Regions from separate parts of the Homo sapiens genome. Here region 1 is linked to region 2. The links come from fine-mapping of genetic effects on gene expression. A gene starts in region 2. The other region holds a variant in brackets. All regions are shown on one strand. Distances are between the middles of the regions. Region 1 overlaps NECTIN1 (nectin cell adhesion molecule 1). Region 2 holds the start of NECTIN1 (nectin cell adhesion molecule 1).

Region 1 (8,000 bases), 54 kb before region 2:
AAAATTAAATTTCCACTTATCCCTCTCGCTCATGCATTCCCTCTGGACCAGTGGGGCTTAGAGCAAGGGCATGGCTGTGCCCTGCGGGGTGGGCTCCCCAGAGAATGTGGCAGGCACGGGCCGACGTGGAATGGAGGGTGGTGAGGTCAGCTGCTGCTTGGAAATTGCCTGAGAGCACAAGAACAAACAGCCCTGAGAAGGCTCAGGCCAACTCCCTGAGTCCTCTGGAGGGGGCTGAGAGTCCCTTCCGAGAGAGGCCAGCCGCTCAGCGCCTGGGCCTATCAATGATTCAGTGAGTGCCATGCGTCCCTGGCTCCTGCCTAACGGGGCTGCCAGCAAGAGCCATGTTGTGTCCCTCTTCCAGCTGGGACCCTAGGTGGCCCGGCCCTCCTGCCCCCAGCCCACACCCCTCACATGTTGATAGCCCACCATCAGGGGAAGGTATCACCACGCAGGGAGTACTGCATGATCGTAAGAAGCCTGAGACAAGTGTGAGTATCCCCATATCAGAGGTTAGGAAGCCAAGGCTCAGAGAGGTGAAGCACTTGCTCAAGGCCACACAGCTAGGAAGAGCCAGTGTGTGAACACTCAGGCCAGGTCTGTGCTGTCTCCCATGTGACAGTGCCTCCCTGAGGGGTGGTCATGTTCCCTATGGCCACTCCACATGGAACACAGGCCCTGCCCTTCCCACCTCCCCCTTGACTCCCCCAGTATCTCAGAGCTGGAGCTTGGGTAACCATGAGGCTCATTTTGAGCTGTACTTGGACCTTCCCCGCTGGGGAGAAGTGTGTGACACCGGCCCCTTCCACCTGCCAACCCGTGGAAACCCCCCAGCTTTCCCCAGGCTCCAACCCTGATGCTCCTCCTCCTATGACTAGTCTCGGGGCCAAGGCCAGGGATTGCAGACAACAGCAGGTGGCTCCACACTCCCGCCCCTGGGTGAGAGACGTGACAGAACGGCTCTGAGGACAGGTAGGCGCAGACCCTGGACAACTTCACGTGGCTCTTTCTGCAGCTGTGTCCTAAATATACCCACAAATGAGGTCTCCCACTCCCGAGACACTGGCTCAGAGCTCATGAATCCTCGTGGCTTGCAGGTGTGCAGTGGCTTTGTGGCCGGAGCCCAGCAACTGCCGACCAGTCTTCTGTGTCCCTGAGCATGTTACTTCCTATATCTCAGTCACAGTGGGACACCACTTCCTTTTTTAAGACACTCGGTCACCCTGTCACCCTGCAGATAGCTCAGGTCCACTGTAAAAGACGCTCCCCATGTGAAGTTGTGATGGCAGTTTACCCCTGTGTGGACTTGTTTTGATGCTTCCATTAATAATAATGATGATGATGGAGGTCAGGGTAATAATCACGGAACATTGGCCATTTATTGACAGACTGATCTGTGCTAGGTGCTTGACTTACATCACGTAGAATTCTGACAACAGCCCTTCAAGGTACATCATACTGTCCCCGTTTTACAGATGGTGGGGGGGGCCCTGTCCAGGGTCACAGCTGTCTGACATCAAGCCCATGCTCCTTTCACGTCCCAGGTGAAGTCTCTCCTCAGAACATCCTAGCTCTTGTCCTCCCTTTGCCCGGATAGATAAGTTGACAGAAAGCTGCAGGGAAAGCTCAGTTGCAGGGCACACAAAGCACTATGGCTTTGGGCTACATCTTCGCTTTCTCTCCAGTCTCCCTGCTTGAGGTAAGCCTCACTTTCTGGCCCATGAAGAGGTCCTTGACCACAGGTGCAGAGCTTGGAGGAGATGAGCTCCACCTGCAAACCTATCCCCACCATGCCAGCATCCCACAGCGTGTTCTGCTGGCAGATCTACGGGCAGGTTCTATTGGCCCCCAAAACAGCATTGCTGTAAACAGCACTTCCTTCTTCCCTCTCAGAGCCTTCCTCCTGCCCCTCTCTGATTGGGGGTCACCCTGACTGTCTCATTTGCACCCTTTAATGAAAGAAAGAGAAAAGCAAAGCAAAACCAATGGCCAGAGCTCAAGGGAGAACTAGAGAAGCAGGAAAAGGAGATAATCTTCCTGCAGTGGCATTGCTCAAAGGTGAGGGATGCAGGTGGCGAAGGAACCCGTGGGTGCGGAGAGGCTGGGGAGGATGCAGCTTCCTACCTGTGATATTGACCTCCACCTGGCCTGAGCGTGTACCGATGGGGTTGGTGGCCTCACAGATGTAGGTCCCTGCCAGGCTGTAGTTGATGGGTCCCTTGAAGAAGAGGGTTCTGTTCTGGGCCTCCACACCCTTGGGGAGAGAGCCATTTAGCCTGTGGGAAGTGGGAGACACAGCGTAGGGTTATGACTCTCCAGCCTCAAGAAGCTGTTCCTGGGTCACCCACTTGGCTCCAGGCCCCCTAGCCTTTTGCTGAGCTTGTGTGGTAGAGTCTGTCTTTGAAGGAAGAAAAATAATAATAATAATCTCTTTCACTTGGTAGTTTTATATTATTCAGCTTTTCATATTTGATCATAATATGGGAATATAGGCAGGCTAGGTAGGTGCCGGTCCCCCTTAACAGATGAAACCTGAGGTTCAAGGCCAGGGAACCACAGCTAGCAGGCAGCAGCATGGGAGCTCCAGCCAATTCTCGGGACTCCTGGTAAAGTGCTCTTTCTACTTTCCATTCACGTCTCATGGTTGTTGGTCCTTGGTCTCCTGGGCAGCTGGTTAATAATACAGATGCCAGCCAGGTGTGGTGGCTCACGCCTGTAATCCCAGCACTTTGGGAGGCCGAGGCAGGCAGATCACATGGTCAGGAGTTTGAGACCAGCTTGGCCAATATGGTGAAACCCCATCTCTACTAAAAGTACAAAAATTAGCTGGGTGTGGTGGTGCACGCCTGTAGTCCCAGTTACTCGGGAGGGTGAGGCAGAAGAACTGCTTGAACCTGGGAGGCGGAGGTTGCAGTGAGCCAAGATTGCGCCATTGCACTCCAGCCTGGGTGACAGAGTGAAAATCCGTCTCAAAGAAAAAAAAAAAAATAATAATACAGATGCCTTGGTTCTAACCCCAGATCTCCTGAAGCAGAACCACTGGGGCAAAGACCTGGGAATCTGTATTTGACAAGCCACTCAGGTAACGAGATAGGAAGTATGTTCCATTCCACTACTTTGTGTTTTTGCTGGGAATGTCACAGGACCTTTTCATGTGGGAAGTGACTTGCAAATTTGCCAAGGACAAAGGATCTTCTTCCTTCCTCCTGACCCTCAAAGGCCACAAAGCTATTCTGTTGAACCTAGCAGCTCCTGGGTCCACAGAGCTGAAACCAGCCAGCAGGCTCTGCCCACTCACACCTTCAGAAGCACTTTTTATTCCAGGAAGTGGAGGATCATAGGTAGGGCATACCAGTGCCCTCTGCTCCCCAGAAAAAGAAGGCAGACTCCTTCTGGGCAGCTGTCTCCTGGCCACCCATATCAACCTTCTCCTTGGTTCCCCACGTCCCTGTCTTTCTGTGTGTTCCATCCAGCTCTTCTCTGGGAAGAGCCTTGGCCCCAGCTGTCAGAGCCGGCTGGAGGGGAGAAGGCGAAGGCAAGGCAAGGCGAAGACCGTGAGGCCAAGAAGGGGATGGTGGGCCGCAGGGCACGTGCTCCATGAGCACAGGCATTCTAGGCTGGCTGCTGCCTCCTCCCCAAGAATCTGGGGGTGCCAGAGAGAAGGAATAGGGACAAAGAAAGAGCTGAGATGCTCCAGAACACTGGCTTCCCTGGGGACACCTTGATAAAAATAAATACTGGGGGGTTGGGGTGGGAGTGACTCAGACTGAATCACCAAAGGAAAACGACAAAACTCTTTATTAGGAAGAGGGAGGGAAGCAGATCACAAAGGAAACCCCTCTGGCAGAATAGCTTGTTCCATTGACCTTGACACTGTCACACATGGACGTAATGTATATGTGTGTGTTGGGGGTGGGGGTTGTTCTCTCATGGCCCCGCTTCTTACTGAGCCCAGACCCTAATTTCTTCCCTGCCTAAAGGCTCCTGGAGGTAGGATGGTTGCCCCTCATCACCCGTGGTCCAGTCAGCTGTCTTCCAAGGTGACTGGTCAGCCCTGCAGCACTTACGTGGTCCAGTGGTACTCAGTGGCTGGGGGGTTAGCATCAGCTTTGCAGGTGAGCTTCACGTCCATCCGCTGCAGGTACCAGTTGCCATCAAACCCCTCAATGGTTACCTCAGGCTCATCTGTGGGGCAAGGGATGTTTGAAGAGGGTGAGGTCAGGAGAGCGGGACTTAGAACAAGGGAACTTCAGCCAGGAAGGGATGGAAGGAGCAGTGGCATGGAAACAGCCAGGAGAGAGGGAAGT[G/A]TGGGTGGGAGGGTGGCAATCACAGAGCCCGGGAGTGGAAACAGGAGGGCGACAGGGAAGGAGGAGAGAAAACGAGCAAAGGGAGGAGATAGGGGAGACAGGAGGGGAGAAGAAAGCACCCCCAGAAAGAGAAAGGGAGGAGAAAGGAGAGGAGGAGGGAGGAGGGACAGTGGCGCCCACCCCAGGAGGCCCCTGGCAGCCAGCCCTGCTCACACTGCACGTTGAGAGTGAGGCTTTCCTTGAAGCGGTCCATGTGGTAGTTGACGATGCAGGCCAAGGACTGCTGGTGGGCTTCCCTGCTGGGCACCAGGCGGTAGCGGCTGATGACCGTCACTGTGCCATTGGGGTTCCGGATCTCCTGGTACTCTGCCTCACCTTTTAACCGAGTTTCCCAGGATACCACACTGGGAGGCTTCCCATTGGCTGAGGTGCAGGTGGCCACCAGGACCTTGTCATCCTGCCCCTTCTTGGCTCGAAGCACTGCCTGGGTACCCTCTATCCAATTGGTGGGTTTGGCTGCGAGGAAGCAGAGAGAGTGATGGGACTAGCCCTGTTGACTTGTCCAAGATGCACCGGCCAAAAGGGCGTGGCATCCGTCAGGCCTTGTCTTCAGGTCCCCTTGGCCATCCCTGCCTCTCAGCTGTGCTGCACCAAAGACTGTCCCAGAACCTCTTGCAGGAAGTTCATCATGTCTAACGTTATGTCCTCCCTGCCCTACTAGTCATATCCCTGTCATCGAGCTTAGGCCTCCTGGAGTCCCAGCATGTCTAAGGCAAGCAGCGCAGGTGGCTCCTTTCCTTACCGTGGTGTCTGATGCTGCTGCCAGCACAGTGCCTTGTGGGCTTCAACCTGAAGAATCACGTTCCCCACTGTCTAGAGATAAGCCCCTGCCCCTAATCCCTAGTGAATTGTGGGGTGGCCTGGCTAGAAGGGACTGGAAGCCTCATGCCTAGAATGATGGCAGCATGCCCACCCAAGGGGGATGTCTGGGGTCATTGAGGCATCCTGAGGATGGCCACGCCCCGAGGTCACAGGCCTCTGGATGAACAGGGAGGGGGCCCAGGGCAGCTTACCCATCACCGTGAGATTGAGCTGGCTTTCTCGATTGCCCGTAGGGAAGGTAGCAAACTCGCAGATGTAGACACCCTCATCCTCCAGCTCCAGGCGGGAGAGGCGGATAGTGCCATCGGTGAAGGAGGGCCGCAGGAATTCCACACGCTCGCGGTAGGGAGCCAGCACGGACACGCCCATGGATGGGTTGTAGATGGCCACGTTCTGCTTGGAGCCATTGGTGGACTTCTGCCATGTGACCTGGGTGATCTTCACGCTGGGAAGCGGGTTGGCAAAGCTGCAGTGCAGAACCACGTCTGTGCCGATGAAGCCATACATGGAGTCGTTCACCTGGACCACCTGGGAGTGGACGCCTGGCCAGGAGGATGGCAGCAAGTGGTCAGTGTCAGGCACAGCCTCCCCCCACCCACACAGTTCCCTGTGCTCTGGCCTTGTCTTTTATAGCAGTCATTATTGTTTTTATTCCGATTGTAAAAATATTAATTACTTGTTATAAAAACACTCTAGGCAACACTGAAAAATCATGAGAAGAAAGTGACAACATCCCATGATCCTTCCGCTCAGGATAATCTTGAAGGATCTATCTCCTTTTACTTTATATCTGTGTATATCCACATAACCATCTATCTATTTTAAAAAGTCAGAATCATGCTGTACATATTATCCCATAAGCTGCTTTTTTACTTAGGGATAGATTATAAACATCACTCTGTGTTAGTAAACATACGTCTGCACCCTCATTTTTGGTTGCTTTTCGAGCAGAGCCCCAGCCTAGGAGCCATGCACTGGCTGCTTTGTCTTCCTGGGCCTTGGTTTCCTCCTCTGTTATATGGGGTGGAGAATCCAGTCCTCTCTACCTCACGAGGTTACTGGGGGAAACAAATGGCGTGATGGACGAGAAGGTGCGTCAGAGGCAGGAGGCTCTGGATGAGCTTGAAGGCCCACGGTGGCTGTCATCATGGCCACCCCTGCTGTCTTCTCCCTCGCAGCTGAGTCCCCATCCCCTGGGGTGCACTAGCTGGGCCCCTCTTACCCAGCTAGGCAGAGGGAAGTGGGCACTGCATAAGGCCAGGCCTCCGCTGGCTCCCCATGGCCTTCACAGCCAAATGTAAATGCCTTCTCTTGGCAAGACCTCCTTGCACCTGCCTCTTGTCCACATCTCTCCATCAGCCACACTTTCCCACCATACCAGACTGGGCCCATCCTCAGAACATGCCACATTCCCGGTTTCCTTCCCTCTTCCTCCCATTTATTCAGCCACGATTTGCCGAGTGACATATTCCAGGATCTAGTGTGAGCATTTGGGTCATATCAAGGAGCAATTGAGTCCCGGCCTCCATGGAGCACAGAGCCTATCCACCCAACACTCCTAGACTCTTACCCAGGCAGCTCCCTCCACCTAGATGGCCCTTCCCCTTCTCCACCTGTGGATGGCCCCCTGAGGCCACCTCCTCCTGGGAGCTTCCCTGATCTTCCCCACCAGAGCTAACCTGGCCACCTCTACCTTGGTTCTTTCCTGCCTTGGAAGGTGGTGGTTACACATCTGATTTCTCCACCAGACTGTGAACTCCTCCAAGGGCAGGGTCTGTCCTTTCCATCTCTGTATCCCCAGTGCCCAGTGCAGCATCTGGCACATAGCAGATGCTAGTAAATATTTGTTACTACACAAATTGCAATGGAAGTCAAGAGAGCAGACATTTGCAAGAAGGAGGGAGTGAAATTCCCTCCAGTCTCCACATGGGTTGTGTTATCCCCTTTAGAATGTCCTTTTTTTGGGCTTCCTTACCCCTGAACTTGGCTCAGCTCCCTTAACGTGGGGCGGTTGTCCTCAGCACTAGGCTGTACACTCCAGCTCTCTCCTGAGTCCTGCAACTCCCCACAAGCCGTGTCCTTGCTGTCATTTGTATACTTCATGTCTTTGTATCCTTACTTCACTCACTTTATTGAGCGTCATCAATAGCATTAATAACACCAGGACCTGTACTGACCCAAGGCAGGGGGAGGATCTAAATGACCCCCCAAGGGAGTCTGGGATCCAAGAGTGGGAATTTGGGGCTTATGCTCACTCACCTCCTCAGCGTGACGGGGATATTGTAGCAACACAGGCTCCTCTGAGGGCCCCAAAACCCATGGTCAGTGCAGTAAGTTGCTCCCCTCTCTTCCGCTCGAGAGGCCACAGGCCAGGTCTCTAGGTCACTGCAGTATCCCTGGTGCTCAGCATAAAGTAGCTACTCAAGAAATGCTTGCTGAATAAGTCTATCTTTGGCTTCACCAAGCCAGGCCCTACCGTGTTCTGAAAGTTTCCCTGAGGTTCCCCCTTCTCTGTGCTGATTCACATCCACACAGCCCTCAAGGTCCATCAGGCCTATCCCCACCCTCACTCCTCCAGCTGTTCCCTCTGCCAGCCTGTGGGGTGCTTCGGAGCTGATGCTCCCTGGGCAGAGGCCCCATGGGTTGGGAATACGATGGGAGAAGTATCCAGCCACGAGTTGGGAAGGCTGGGCTGTAGCCTGCCTCTGCCTTTAGCAGGCAGTGGGACCGTGGCCAGTCACCTCCCCTTTCTGAGCCCTAGCTTCCTCCTCTGTAAGGCAGCAGACTGGCCTCCCGAGTCCCAGTGGTCCT
Region 2 (9,781 bases):
GCTCGACACACCTGCTTCTCAAGCAGGTCCTCTGCCTCCTCCTAGGGCTCCCCCTATCTCTTTTTGGGATGTAACCCACCTGCCCCACTGACCCTCTCCTCTAAGTTAACAGGAAGAAACTGTGGATTGTCATCTCAGGAAACAGAGGCCTTTGGGGCTTCACCACACTGCTTAGTAAAGTCTGTGTTGTTGAAAACATACTTCTGTGTTTACACTTCAATAGCCAGATTGGGAGTGTTTTGAAGTTGGGGGCAATCACACACACTCCAGGCCCCTCCCTCTTCCTCTCCTCAAACCCCCAGACCCAGGTTCCCTGTCACAGCCCAGGAAAACCCTGAAAAGAGCATCAGACTGGCAAGTCCCTAGAGAGACGCTATAGCGGGCAATGGGGAGGAAGCCAGCAGGTGATGCAAAGTAGGGTGTGGGCTTGCAACTTCTGGGCCAACCAGCCTCCATCCAAGTGTCAGACTGGGCACAACCATATCCACCTGCCTCCCTGCACCCGTGGACCCTAGAGCAAGCAAGCAGAGAAGGCACCAGGAGCCCAGCCACTGGGCAGAGGAGCTGGGCGGTCCGGGAACTTCGGTGCATGGATGCTACCCATCAGTCAATTACAGTCAATGGAAGAGCATTTATTAAGTACCTCTCTCAACCCTGGTTCCTTTCTCTGCATCCCACCCTTTCATGTAGATTTTTGGCAGGGGTTGTATCCACCTTGAGCCAGGTGAGTTCACCTCCCTGCTCCCACTTCCTGAGTGGGTGGAGCACAGCAGGCCTCTAGCCCCCAATGAAGGAATTAACCATGAAGGAATCACAAAGCTGGGGAAAGAGAATAACAAAAGGAAGGAGAATAGGGTGAGTTCCTTCCCCTTCTCCCAACCCTTCCCACCACCCTTTGTCCATCCCAGGATTACGTTAACCCCTAGTGTGCTGGACCAACCAGAGCTCTGGGAAGCTCTCGTTTCTCTGGGTTCCGGATGTGGACATATGTAATTGAAGGGTTCCTGGAAGCTCAAATCCCCATGGCCAGGCAAGTCCTAGAGCCCGAACTTCTGTATCTCTGGCTGGCTTCCCAGGCCATCCAGTGTGAGAAGACCTCTCACTCTCACCAAGACCACCCTCTGGGGGCAGGGTGGGCAGTGACACCTGTGAGCCCTGGATTTTCCCCACCCCCCACATCGAGCAGGGCAGCACCCCAGGCTTCACGGGTGGAGGCACCCCAGTACTGGCTTTCACAAACTGCTTCCCAGACATCCACCACTTAGTGAGATTGGCGGGGCCCTCGTAGTGAGCTGGCTGGCAGCAGAAGAGGCATAGAAGGGAATGAGGCCAGGCTTCTGCCTTCCAGGAGTGCACCCTAGCCCCGGAACTAGGCAGCCAGACTGTTCCCTCGATAACAAACTGCCTGGCCATTCTGCGGCAAAGCACATTGCAGGAACTCGGGATCTAATATTCCTGCCCCACGAGGAGATGGTCTCTGTACACTGACCCCCTATTCTGCCACCCCAAGGCGGGGACCACGTGCTCCAGTCAAGATCCGCCCCCCTCCCCAAAATCCCATCTTGCTAGAGCTGCAGGTCGTCTCTGGTTTCTACCCAGAGAGCTGGAGGAACTCCCCACACCCCTTGACCCACGCTTGGTGTCCAGTCAGCCGGCGAGCTCGGCAGCTTCCCCAGGGACACAAAGGGTTAAATCCAGGCGAGGGGACTCGGTCGGATTTGCCTCCTAAACGCATTTTCCAGTTCATTCCCCAGCACAATATGCCTGGGCTGGTCCCAGCCTCCGTCCCCACCCCACCCGTCAGAATGGGCCACCAGGGCCACCCCGGGGTCGGGCGCGAGGTTAACCCCTCGGCTGCCGGCAGCCCGCACCTCGAGGAAGGACACGCGGGGCACCCTCGGGAAAGTGGGTCATGCAGCTACTTGGATGGCAGGAAGCCCGCGGTGTCTCCTCCAGGGAGAGCCCCCAGAGCTGGGAGCAGAGTTCCGAGGGGGAGCCCGGTCCCGCGCCAGGCCGGGAGGAGGCTGCCCCGGCCTCACCCTCCAGGAAAGGAACCGCAGGTGAGCGAGGAGCCGCCTCTGCCGCAGCAGCCGACTCTCCGCGCCCGCTGTGGGGCGGTGTGGGGCGGGAGGGGGCCCGAGCGTCCTGAGCCGTCTGGCAAAGGGGCCGCCGAAAGAGACGAAGCCCCCCCGCCATACTCCAAACCCGCAGCTCCGAGACTGACGCCCTCCCCCTGGGGCTGTTGTCTCCCACCCCAAGACGGTGATTACGGTGATTATTTTGCATTTATGTAACACGCAGTGTTTCCAAACTGCTTCCCGAGCAGAGAGCTGGTTATTAAATAAACAGAACGCTATTACATATTATTATTTTTTGTAAAGAACTGAGCGGAGAAAGTGCTTTCATGCTACATAGAGACGTGCATCTGACTGCTTCCCTGCAGGGCAGGCGGTTCGGCTTCTCAACCTCTTTCTCCGCCGTGCCACCTCCCACCCCCTTTACCCAAGCCGTGACCCAACTTTTCTGGCTCCTTTCACTCCCCACAATCCAGTCGTGCCCGCCATCCGGCTCCCAGCCCCGGGGAGGCATTGGATGGGGGTGGGGACAGCAGAGGTGAGCGCTCTTACCTGGGAGGAAGAATGCGGTCAAGCCGAGAGCGAGTCCCCACCAGCGTCCAGCGGCGCCCGCAAGCCCCATCCGAGCCATCGGGGGCCGGGGGTCCGGCGAGAGGGGCGGCGAGGGCAGCGCTCCTCGCGCAGCAGAAACCAGCCCGGAAGATGAGGGAAGATCGCTGGCGGTCGGCGGGCGCTCGAAGGATCCAGGTCAGCTGCAGCCGTCGGCCGGGGCGGGGTGGGCTGGGTGGGATCCGCGCGGCCGCAGTCCGGGCCCCGGGCCGCCGCCGGCTCAGAGGCTCGGCAGATGCCCGCCGCAAGTTGCACGAGTCATGCCCCTTCGCCTCCTCCGCTCTCCTCCCGGCGCCGGTCCCCGCCCTCTTCTTCCACGCAGAGCGGGGCTGGGGAGAGGGACCCACCCCCGGCGCGCCCGGCTGCCCGGTTGCGCGGCGCGGGCTCCTGGCCCCGGCCCGCTCACACCCTCCCGCTCGGCTCCAACTTGCAGGCGTCCATGGCCGGCCGTCCTCCGAGGGTGGCGGGACGCACCCGGGCGGCGCAGAAGGCTCGGGGCCCAGGCGGCGGGCGCGGGGCTCGGCGGTCGGCGGCCCGGGTGGCTCTGGCTGCGCGGCCGGGCGCGAGGAGAACGGGTCGGAGGCGCCGCGCGTCCCAGCCGCCGCCGCTCTGCCGGGTGCCGGCGATCCGCAACAATGTGGAGCCGCGCTCGCTGCTCTCGCTCTCTTTCTCTCACTCGCCGAGCTCCAGCCTCTCACCCGCTCGCCCGTGATGTCAGCCAGAGGGGAGGGGTTAGCGTTAACCCCCTCCTGGCCTCGATGCGCGCCCGCCGGGGCCCGGTCGGAGCCCGAGCGCACGCGCCTTCCCGACCGAAGCAGAGGCGGATCGCGAGCGCGGGCTGCGGGGTCCGGCTCAGGACCCTCGCTCGGGAGCTACCCCTCGGCCGCCTTCCAGCTGGGGAGCCGGCTGGAGCGCGGGCTGCCCTCCTCCTCCGCTGACAAAGGCAGGCAGTGACCCCTAGCGGCCGGCGGCGCCGAGGCGCGGCGGGTGGGGGTGGAGTTAGGACCGGGCCGGGGGCGGCGGTGGAGGAGAGGGCGGGATGGAGAATCCCGGCTAGCAGCGTGGGAGCTGGCAGGGCTTCTGCAAGCCCTCTGCTCCCACCCTGGCCCCATTTCACAGACGAGGAAACAAAGGCCCAAAGAAGAGTTCCGCCCGGGACGGAACGTGGCATAGCTCGCAACAGAACCCAGTCTCCGGAGATCCCTCTCCTCTGCACCACTTGGACGTTCCACGGAGAGGCAGCGGTGCGCGGGGCGACGGGGAGCTGCCAGAGAAGTCAGTGGTGGGCATGAGTGGGTGAGACGGGCCCACTGAGGTTTCTGGTAGAGTTTCTTTTCTAATCCCTGCTCCCTTCGGGGGTTCCTTTTCCAAAAATTGAAGCACCCCGCGCCCCGCCCTTGCCCAAACATAGCCTGAAAACGAGCTCTCCTCCAGTTTCCAGGACCTTAGTTTTGAGAGATTTGTGGGATTCCCGCGAAAGTGGATCGTCCAGTCAGTGTCCCTGGCAGGGCAGGGACTCTCCGCCCCATCCCGTTCACCACCCACTACATCCGGGTGTGGTAGGATTTCTGCCAAGGCGACTGCGCCCTCCGGGCCTTCCCTCTTCCCCTTACTCTGGTCCTCCTATCCCCATCCCCTCCCCCTGGGGGAGGAAGACAGACAGAGTTTCCCACTAAGGAGAGCCGAATTCTCCCCAGACCCTGGCCGGACACTGCTCCCTCTACCCTTTGCCCAGCCCTCTAGGCGGGCAGGAGCAGAGGGGAAGTGGCTGTTTCTGATAACACGTAAATTCTGGTTCCTCACTGGAGAAGGGGCAAAGACAGCGCCATATTCCCACTGTCTGGAATCCGGCCCTGGAGTGTCTCGGTTTCTCGCGGAAGTAGTCAGATCTGGCATTGTCATGAACACTCACCCACTCACTGTATGGTCTTTTACATTTAACAAATGTAACCTGGGCTTTCTTTGTGTCAAAACACAGTGCCTGGCTTGGGGATACAGAGACATCATCATTGTCCTGAAGGAACTCAATCTAGTTGAAGGGTGGGGGAAGACAGACATAGAAACGGATGTCGTAAACAAATATTTAATATGGGATTGTGTGGGTTTGGTGGGTCACAGAAAAAGTGCCCAGTTTAGCCCGGGGTGGGGTTGGTGTAAAGGCTTCAGGGAAGCGAACACAGGGTCTCGGTGAGTCATCTATCAGACCAAGGTAAGTGCTGGAGGGCAGAGACATAAAAGAGACTGGATTTAAGGTAGAGGGTCAGCACGAGCAAAGGAATGAAGGTAAGCAATAGTCAGGTGAGTAGGGGGCCCACAAAGGGTTGACTGGTTTAGCCTGAGCCTAAGACTTGAGGAAAGGAGAGGTCTGCAGATTCGTGAATCATGCCCGGTAGCTGCTAGGAGGGTTTTAAACTGGGGAACACGCTATCAGATTTAGTTTGTGGCAGCTGGGAATCTCCCATCTGGCTGCTGAGTGCTTTAAGGGCCAGGGTTGAATTGAATTCATTGTGATGGCCTTTAGCTCTGTGCCAGGCACACTGCAGGAGCTGAAGGCATGGTTTGAAGGGGCAATCCCAGATGTACCAATGTCTTCTTGTTCCCTGCTCTTACCCTCCCATCCTCTCCATCTTTATTTTATTTTATTTTATTTTATTTTATTTATTTTATTTTATTTTATTTTATTTTAATTTAATTTAATTTTATTTTATTTTATTTCATTGAGACAGAGTCTTGCTCTGTTGCCCAGGCTGGAGTGCAGTGGCGCCATCTCACCTCACTGCAACCTCTGTCTCCCAGGTTCAAGTGTTTCTCCTGTCTCAGCCTCCCGAGTAGCTGGAATTACAGGTGTGTGCCACCACGCCCGGCTAATTTTTGTATTTTTAGTAGAGACGGGGTTTCTCCATGTTGGCCAGGCTGGTCTGGAACTCCTGACCTCAGGTGACCTGCCCTCCTTGGTGTCCCAAAGTGCTGGGATTACAGGCATGAGCCACTGTACCCGGCTGCACTCTCTCCATCTTTAGGTCAGGCTTCTTTGATCCTCTGATCTTAAATGAGCTTCCAAAGAGGGTGCGGCCAGCAGGGAAGATGTGGCTGCCTGGGGATTGGTTGGGTGGAGAAGATGGAAGCAAGTAAGTGATATAGTATGGTTGTTCACTCATCATCTTTAAACAAGCAGGGAAGGTTGCTGGGGGAGGGGACATTTAACTGAGACCCTGAAGGACAGATCAGATTTGGACCAAAAGAGGCAGGAGAGAGACTCCTAAGTGGAAGGAACAGCTTGTACAAGAACATGGAGGTGCGTGGAGGTGGGAGAGGTGCCACCTGTGTTAGGACAGTAGGCATTCCAGTTTGTTTTGCGTTTTAGAGATGTATAAGAGAAAGGGACAGGTAGGCGCAAACAGAAGGCAAAAGGACCAGAAGGTTTCCTTTAGTGACAGGGAAGAAACACAGGATCAAGCAGCAGGAAAGCAGGCTTTGGTTCCTGCTCTTAAGCTGTGAGCCCAGGAGTCACTCTTGCTTCTTACCTCTTCCTGAACCACCATGTTCCAATTTTGTTGATTCTGCCCCTGAGATATATATATATATATATATCCTTTATATATATATATATAGTCTAGTGACATTGATATGCCCCTGATATGCCCCTGAGATATATATATATATCCTTTATATATATATATCCTTTATATATATATATTCTTTATATATATATATATAAAGTCTAGTGACATTGCTCCATTTCTCCTGTTATTAATCTAGTCCATGCACTCATGATTTCTACCTGGTCTTTACAATACTTTCTGACAGTATAGCCAGTCTGCACTGAGATGGGGAGTAAAATGTAACAGTCCAGCACATGGAACTCTGGAGAGCTAATCTGCCTGGATTGGAATTCTTAAACTCCAGCTCTGACACCCAATAGCTATGTGTCCTTGGGCAAGTGACTTAACTTCTCTGTGCTCAGGTACCTTCTCTGTAAAACAGGGAGAAATAAGAGCACCTACCTCTTGAAGTTGTGAGGATTAAATGAGCCTTGAGCCAAACATGTGAAGTGCATGGAACAATGCCTGGTGTACAGTAAAAACTGTCTAAGTATTAGTCATCATTATTATTGTCATCTGTCTCTCCACATCCAGTTTTCCCCTTCCTGAAAATGGTTTATATATATTTTACAAGCTTTATTTTGAAATAATTTTGGATTTGCAATAGAGTTGTGAAAATGGTACAGAGTTTTCATATGCCCTTCATTCATCTTCCCTGAATGTTAACATCTTATAGAACCATGGTACATCTATCAAAACTAAGAAATTAGTGTTAGTATAATACTATTAACTGAACTACAGAATTTATTCAGATTTCCCCAGGTTTTTTCCCACTAATGTCTATTTTTTGTTCCACAATTTAATCCAGGATACAACATTACATTTAGTAGTGGATTATTTTCAAATGCAGATGGTCAAGTTGCAATGCCCAGGAACAATTTCTTGGCCTGCCAGACTCTTAGACCAGTGTCAAGTCCTCAACAAGGCCTAAGGGGCCCATGCCTGCTTCTGCAGCCTCATCTCACCCTGCTCTGAGGCTTCAAGGAGGAGCCACTGGGATTTCCAATCATCCCCTGCTATAGACTTTGCATACTTGGGACCACTTTCGTGATGGTTTATAGTGCCTGATTCACTCCCCATTAGACTGTCAGCTCCTCCAGGGCAGGGATCATGTTGCTGTTGTTCTCTGCTATATCTCTGGCACCTAGAACATGCCTGGTACCTGATAGGCTTGTAATGAAAATGTGTTGATTAACTCACATCCTGTGCCACTTTCTGCCAATCACTTCCCCTCTCTGGACCTCAGTTTTCTCATCTGCAGACTGAGGAGTTTAATTTGTTCACTGGTTTTCCAGTTGTGTTTTGGAAACCCTAGAATTTCCTGGGCTCAACAGGAGCCACATTTAAAGAGCATGTGTTTTCATGTGCTTGAAAATTGGGCTTTTGAGAAAGATATCTCTTAATGGATTTTGAAGATTCTGCTGCTTAAAAAGGTTTGAAAACGTGACAGATTATTGTATATTATGAATTACATATAGTTGCATGATTTTACAACTCCATTATTTATTTATTTATTTTTGCAGGCAGTGGGGAGCCATGGAAAGTTTCTGAACAGAGAAGCACTTATTGGGAACTGTCAGAGCTATGCTTCAGGAGATGAATCTGGCAACAACGTGGGTAGGATGGACAGATGATGATTGGTCAGTGAAGGAGGAGGGGAGTGAGGAGAGAGGGTTGTCATGGAAGCCAAGTGAGAAGAGGATTTAATAGAGGAGGTGGAGGAGGTTGCTAACAGTGTCTGATGCTGCAGAAAGCAGGTGGGGATCAGAAGGGGTCTTTGGAAGCAGTGGCAAAACCACCAGTGACCTTTGAGAGAGGGATGTTGGTGACTAGGCAGGGGCTGAACCCAGATCAAAGTGGGAGGAGGAGCAACTGGAAGGTGAAAAAGCAGAGGCAGCAGGTATCCTCTCTGCTTTTGAGAAGTTTGGTGGCGGACGGAATGAGCAAGGTGGATGAGAAGCTCGGAGAGGGTTAGCAAGACAGACCAAGAGGCTTATTTTCTCCTTTTTCATCGGAAATCAAAAGCTACTGAGCATCTTGTAGTCAGAAGGAAAAGAGCTAGTGGACAGTGAGGGAGTGGAGAAGCAAGTGTAAGAAGTGAAATAGGGTGTCATTTATGGAGCAAGTCCTGGGTTGGGGGGCACTGAGGGTGGGAAGGGGTCAGCCTTGGAAAGGAGAAGACCCATCTTTCTCTGAGCCTGGAGGGAAGGTGAAGAGAGTAGTGAAGGTGGAAGTTTTGGGGTGGAGTAGTGAAGGGGGAAGTTTATAATAAGGTCATTGCAGTACAGTGGGAGCTGAAGTTATCTGCAGAGAGAGGTTGGAAAGCGGCTTCAGACTTCACAATTGAGAAGGCCAAAGGGAGTGTTAAGTGGGGTATGACTACCAAGCTTCCAAAATCTATAGGGAGAAAGGAGCAAGCATCATCTGTGTGTCTTCATAGGGAAAAGTCAGGACCAATGGTCATATTTTTGGGGGAGGTAGATTTCAGTTTAATCTAGGCAAGACTGTTGAGGGATCTTAGTTGACCGACAATGGATTGACCTCCCAGTCACTTTTCAGACTCAGGCTGCAAGCCCGTTCATCAGGCATGCTGTGCATGGGCTTCTTGCCCTGGCATGGAGCATGGATGCAATGAGTTCCATGTTCCCTCCTGGCCCTGAGACTTGATAACTGCAGGAATGACAGCCCACTTGAAGAGCAGGCAGTTGGGCTCACCTTTCTCACCCACCTCAGGACTGGAGGCATGAGGTGGGGAGACTAGACGAGATCAGCCCTGGGGAACGTACCATCCCTAGGAAACTCTCCTCTGAGCCCTCCCTTGACTTCCACAGGTTCTTTCAGAGAGGCAGCTGTTGGGCTTGGAAAAGGCCCAAAGTCAATACAGTAATGACTTCCCCTCCTGGTCATATCCCAGGCCCCTCTGTGTCATTCAGAAATTGGCTAATAAAGTTCACTTTGATGTGAGAGGAGCCCTATTAAGAATTCCCCAAGATTCCCCAATCCCCTGAAATCTGTCAATAGGAGAAGATATGTTGGAGTGGCATGCTGGATGGGGGTCACCCCCTTTTGTGTCCCCAGTCCTTACCCTGGTGTCAGTTGAGGCTGAGAGCAAGGGGAGAGGAAAGGAGGAGGAATCCCATGAAGAAAGTATGGCTGAAGCCTTAGCCAACCCCAAAGAGGACCCAGCTGGCATGGCTACCCTCTTGCCCTAACCTGAGGCCAACCTCACCTCAGGCAGTGCTCCCAGGGTAGATGGGAAGCCACAGCACCTAATTACTATGGTCATCACGCTGGTGGCTGTGGTGATTATGATGGTGCCTCTGTATCCCACAGCGCTTAGCAACATTTAATTACTGTTATTCCTATGGAGATCACTGCAGAGTCTTGGCTGCCATTGCTCTTGGGGATGGAGCAACTACACACAGCTGCACCCACTCCCCAGTCCAATGATCCACTGTGTTGAAGTGCTGCCAGGATGGTTAACAGACACCAGCC

The links. PIP is the estimated chance that this variant, and not a neighbour inherited with it, causes the effect.
Region 1: its variant is fine-mapped to the expression of NECTIN1 in whole blood (TOPMed, PIP 0.95).

Annotation. Positions count from the first base shown.
Region 1 is chr11:119,673,035-119,681,034 of GRCh38, forward strand. NECTIN1 (nectin cell adhesion molecule 1) reads right to left here. Exons shown (of 6, transcript NM_002855.5): 2 at 5,381-5,731; 3 at 4,521-4,823; 4 at 4,068-4,185; 5 at 2,125-2,276. Among named protein-coding and RNA genes, the nearest start is that of NECTIN1-AS1, 33 kb to the right of the region's middle. RefSeq lists enhancers at 545-1,094, 1,115-1,164, 3,685-3,979. The variant G/A (reference allele first, on the strand shown) is at 4,308.
Region 2 is chr11:119,725,848-119,735,628 of GRCh38, forward strand. NECTIN1 (nectin cell adhesion molecule 1) reads right to left here and starts at 3,353. Exons shown (of 6, transcript NM_002855.5): 1 at 2,628-3,353. The coding sequence starts at 2,706. It overlaps NECTIN1-DT (NECTIN1 divergent transcript), which reads left to right and starts at 3,736. Exons shown (of 4, transcript NR_120587.1): 1 at 3,736-3,959; 2 at 7,810-7,903. RefSeq lists enhancers at 935-1,877, 2,677-3,538, 3,539-4,399 and silencers at 2,949-3,268, 3,329-3,738.